Linked DNA regions of Homo sapiens: region 1 is linked to region 2. Evidence: fine-mapped expression QTL. Tissue or cell type: whole blood. Region 2 holds a variant in brackets; the other region holds the start of a gene. All regions are shown on one strand. Distances are from middle to middle.

Region 1 (2,500 bases), 100 kb before region 2:
AAAATGAGCTTCAGTTACGTTCCCTAACTCGGTCCACGTTCCTTTAGAACGTCTCAAGCCCGCATGTCACTCATCGCGGAGTCGCAGCCTTCCCCTGGGTTCGGGCGTCTGCGTTAAGCGCCGGCACATCGTGGGGATCCCCGCGTGAGATTTCTCTGCGCCGTCGGAATAGACTGTTCACGGATTCGCGTTAGGATTCCTTATGCTGCAGAACTTCAAAGAAATAAATGTATCAGAATTGCGATGTTTAAGTTCTAATCTATTTAAGCGGGTGGGTCAGCAGAGGGTCAACAGGAAACTTCAAGGTAAATAGTGGCCTCTGGAAAAGGCCCGGTCGCTCACGGCTTCCCCACTGTCTCCCCAGAGCAGACTATTAATTCTTGCGTTTCAGGCAGAACTGCCGCTGCCGGCCCTGCAGCAGAGCTAGGGAGCGGGCAGGGCAGAAACCCAGCCGAGCAAGCTGCAGGCTCGAGTCCCCGCGGGCGGAGAGGCTCGGGCTGGAGCCTCCGGGGCGGTGAGGAGGGGACTCACCGCACTGAGCACAAACTGCTTTCCCCGGGAGCGCCTGCACCCAAAACCCTCCAGTTCGAGGAATGGGATTAAAAGTGACAAAGAAAGGGGAAGGGGGGCTCCGTGGAGACTTCTGGAGGCGTGGAAGGGGCGTCCCCGAGGAGGGGCGACGCAGCCCTGCAGGGTGCTGGGCGGGCGGGGTGAAGGGGGCTGGGGGGCGCCTGGGCCAGGGCTGGTGGGGGCAGACGGCCGCCTGCCCGTGCTGGCACTGGGGCGAGGGGTCCCGCGCCCCCGGAGGGAGGGAGGGAGGGAGGGAAGGAGGGAAGGAGGTCGGCCCCCGAGGGCGGTGGCGGGGGCGCGAGCTGCGGTCCTGCGCTCCGCCCCGCGCGGGTAGCCGGCCGCGCCTCCCCCTGCCGCATGTGCGCGGTGTTGTGTGCCCTGCCCTGCTCCTCCCCCTCCCCTCCCCTCCCCTCCCCTCCCCTCCCGCCGTCCCCTCCCCCAGCGGCCCCGAGCGAGCGCCAGCGCCACACAGCCCCGGGCAGCCGCCGGCGAGCGCGCCGCGACGCCGAACAGGTGGCCGGAGGCTGCGGGCGCCGCGGCGGGGAGAGGCGAGGCAAGCCCCGGGCGAAGCGAGGCGAGGCGAGGGCGGCCGGGCCGGGCATGCGAGCTGAGCGGCCCCCCGGCGTCGCCGCCGCCTGCCCGCGCCCCTAGCCGCCCGCGCGCCCGAGTCCCCAGCGGCTCCTCCGCGCCCAGCGTCCTCGGTCCCGGCCTCGGCTGCTCCGGCTGCGCTCGGCGAGGGGCGCGGGCCCGCCCGCGGCGGCGGCGGCATGAAAGTGACCGTGTGCTTCGGACGGACCCGGGTGGTCGTGCCGTGCGGGGACGGCCACATGAAAGTTTTCAGCCTCATCCAGCAGGCGGTGACCCGCTACCGGAAGGCCATCGCCAAGGTGAGGGGCCGGGGGCGCGGGCGGGGAGGGGGCGGCGGCGGGGACGGCGCCGGGATCAATATGGCGCTTCCTGGAAGGGGGAGGAGAGGCGCAGGGAGGCGGGGAAAGGGAAAGTGCGGCCGGTCGGGCCTCGCGGGCGCCCCCCGCCCCGGACTGCGGGCGCCAAAGTTCTCTGCGCGGGCCGGGGCGCAGCCTCTGGGACACCCAGCCGGGTCCCGCGGCCCCCGCCCTCACCCTCCGCCCGGGAGCTCCGGCCTCGGTAGCGCGGGGCGAGCCGGGCAGCGGCGCATAGGCCGGCCCTGGGCGCCTCCCCGGAGTCTGCAGACCCAGCCAAGCCCCGAGCCAGCGCGCGGGGGGCGCAGGCCGGGAAATCCAGCCCCAGGCCTTTCCCGGCTCCCAGGCCCCGGGGGCACAGGCCGGGGACTGGGAACTTTTGGTGTGAGGAGAGTTTCGTGACTGCCCTTCCGACAGAGGCGGGTTGCGAGCCTTCTGCCTCCTCTCCCTTACTCGGGCGGGGGCGGAACAGCGGCGGGGGGCTTTTCCTCCATGTCCCCTGCTGGTAGGGGCCGGCAGGGGCGGCCCGTCGCGTCCGGGGGCTGCAGGGTTTGGGGAGTCGCCGGCTTGGGGTCGGGGAGGCGTTCCCGGGAGGGCCACCGCTGGCACTTGGCACTCGCTTGCGAGCATTTACTGAGCTGATCCCACTTGCTGGGCTCTGGAAAGCACAACCTTGGAAGAGTCGCGGAATGAAAAGTTTTCCTGCGAGGACCTCAGCTCCTACCTATCCCGGGCTGGTTCCATGTGGCTGGGCTGCGGGGCCGGGCCTGACTTGGGAGTTGAGTGGATTTCCCTTTTTCCTGGTGGACTGATAACATTGTCTCCACTTCACAGCATTCCTCTACTGTGTGTCAGAAGTGAAAAGGCGTTTTGTTAAATTGTTTTACCGACTGTGTCTGTGTTTGACAACAGCCCACGCTGAAGTTTCTCCCAAGCACCCGGGGATATATTTCCTTTGTAGTAGAGTCCTCTTTGGTGGGGAGCGCATT
Region 2 (2,757 bases):
TAGTTATGCAACACAGTGCTTTGTTTGTTCTATGCTAAAAAAAGCTGAAGATGGCCCCTGCCTTTGGAGACCTTATCTAGAGTAAAAAAATTACCATGCATATACAGGAAATAGGCTATTAAGTGACAAATGTGTTCTAGGTAAATATTTATTTATTTTGAGACAGAGTCTCGCCCTGTGCCCAGGCTGGAGTGCAGTGGCACCGTCTTGGCTCACTGCAGCCTTCACCTCCTGGGTTCAAGGGATTCTTCTGCCTCAGCCTCCCGAGTAGCTGGGATTACAGATGCCCATCACCACGCCCAGCTAGCTTTTTGTATTTTTAGTAGAGGTGGGGTTTCACCATGTTGGCCAGGCTGGTATCAAACTCCTGACCTCAAGTGATCCACCCGTCTTGGCCTCCCAAAGTGCTGGGATTATAGGTGTGAGCCACTGCACCTGGCCTAGGTAAATACTTCAGAGTTGGAGCACATTTCATGGAGGGGGAGTTTTTGTTTTTACTTTTTTTTAGGGGTTTGGGTGTGTTACCCAGGCTGGAGTGTGGCAATGCAATCTTAGTTCATCAGCTGCCTTGAATTTTTGGGCTCAAGTGATCCTCCTGCCTCAGTCTCCGGAATACCTGGGACTACAGGTGTGCACCGTGACACCTGGCTAATTTTTAATTGCTTTATAGAGATGGAGTCTTGCTATGTTGACCAGGCTGGTCTTGAATTCCTGGCATCGAGTGATGCTCCTGCCCTGGCTTCCTGGAGTGCTGAGGTTATGCGTGCCAGTTACTGTGTCCGGCCAAGGGGATGGTTTATAAACTGGATTTGGGAAGATACATACAATTTGGGTAGTTGGAACTCTGGGGGTGAAAGCTTTGCAGATATGTGGAAGAGAATAAACAAAAACATAAGGGTCTCTTCACTTGACCAGTATTTATTGAGCATCTTCTCTGTCTCAGACACTGTTTTGGGTGCTTGGGGTTTATCAGTGAACAGAACAATTGAACATCGAAATACGGTGAGGCAACGCTGAGGCTGGTCACAAACCGGCTTGGGATGAGCTTTGAGTGCTTGGCCAAGAACACTGGATTTTGACTTTTAGAAAGTAGTGAGTCATTGGAAATGACTCATATTACAGGACAGTCACATGATAAAGGGAATATTTTGTGAAGATAAATGTAGCAAGATGTGGCACAGGATTGAAGAGATGGGGTCTAGAAGTGAATTGGACAGTCATTTTATTGGGAACAGGAGAGGAAGAGATGGGAAAGAAAGAAATGTATTCACTAGTTATTTAAGAGGATAAATATTTAAAACTGCAC[G/A]TATATATTTATTATGGAATGCCAGGAAATATAGACAAGCACTGCCAGTTGTGCATAGCAGTTCTTTTGTCTATGGCTGTAGATAATACATTCTTCAAACTAGGGATGAAACAAAGTCTTATGTAACAGTCGGTGAACAACATTGTGAATTGCTCTGTTGTGTTTAATTGATTGAATGTGTTCAACCTGTTTCCTGTTTTTACGTGTATAGCTAGTTCCCATTCTCTATTGTTATATATTAAAATATCCCATTTAATATATGCATCTTGGCTATGTATCTTCCTCCACATTTTAAATTTCTGGATCAATGGGTATATTTCATTTTAAGCATTTTGATGCGTGGTACCAAATTCTAGCTCCCTGTCCCCCCGCCTCTCCAAAAATGTGTGCAAAATACTCAGGCGCAGTGTGTGAGAATGCTGGCTTCCTGTATTCTCATGAACCCTGGGTCATTAAATTTGTTTAAAATTAATTTGGTTTCCCAATTTGTTATGAAAAACTCAAATAGTAGCTGAGAGAATCATACAAAGCACAGCTGTGTCAGTTGACCTCTGGTTGGGTTTGGCCAGTGGGAGGTTTGGTGGGAGATAGGAGGCCCCGGGATGACATAGCCCCAAAGTAGTTCCCTTCTCCCTCTCTGTTTTGGGCTGTGTCTCTGCAGCAAACAAGTCTCTCCCCAAATTCCAGCTCCTGCCCCTGAGTCCTCCATGGCTCCCACTTCCGCCACCCTGGGCTCTGGTGCTACCTCCCCTTATCCCCTCAGCCCAGGGGTAGTCATAGCTTCCTGCTACTGCTAACCTGTGTGTGGCCCCCGCCTCCACCACCATCCTGGTTTAGAGTCACGACTCTTCTTACAAATCTTTGTACCAGTTCCTTGTATTAACTTCCCTCTCTTTAAAATACTTGAGATGATTTGCATTTTCCTGTTCGCACTCCTAATAATACATATTTATTCCTGCGTGTGTGTATACAGGTGGAGCATCTGTTATCTGAAAATATGAAATGCTCCCAAATTGGAACTTTTTGAGCCCTGACATGATACCACAAGTGGAAAATTCCACACATAAGTACTTAACACAAACTTGGACTTAATACAAACTTGGTTTCGTGTAAAAAATTATTTAAAATATTGTATAAAATTACCTTCTGGTTATGTGTATAAGGCATATTTGAAACATAAATGACTTTTTTTGTTTAAATTTGGGTCCCATCTTCGAGAAATCTCATGTGCATGTAAATATTCCAAAATCTGAAAAAAATGGAAATCTGAAACACTTTTGGTCCCAAGCATTTTGGGTTAGGGGTTCTCACCTGTATGTTTATATGTATATGTACATGTGCACATGTACATATATGTGTACGTGTGTATTTTTTTGCACTATTTGCAGACATGGCACTTTAAATACTTCAGAACACAACTCCTTAGAATAAGGGTGTTTCCTTAAATATCC

What was found. PIP is the estimated chance that this variant, and not a neighbour inherited with it, causes the effect.
Region 1: it holds the start of PARD3, and the variant in region 2 is fine-mapped to the expression of PARD3 in whole blood (TOPMed, PIP above 0.99).

Annotation. Positions count from the first base shown.
Region 1 is chr10:34,813,833-34,816,332 of GRCh38, reverse strand. It overlaps PARD3 (par-3 family cell polarity regulator), which reads left to right and starts at 1,037. Exons shown (of 25, transcript NM_001184785.2): 1 at 1,037-1,457. The coding sequence starts at 1,338. PARD3-DT (PARD3 divergent transcript) reads right to left here and starts at 565. Exons shown (of 2, transcript NR_108043.1): 1 at 532-565; 2 at 1-213. RefSeq lists silencers at 689-738, 829-998, 1,519-1,798.
Region 2 is chr10:34,708,922-34,711,678 of GRCh38, reverse strand. The region is part of intron 1 of PARD3 (par-3 family cell polarity regulator); the gene reads left to right. Among named protein-coding and RNA genes, the nearest start is that of PARD3, 100 kb to the left of the region's middle. The variant G/A (reference allele first, on the strand shown) is at 1,307.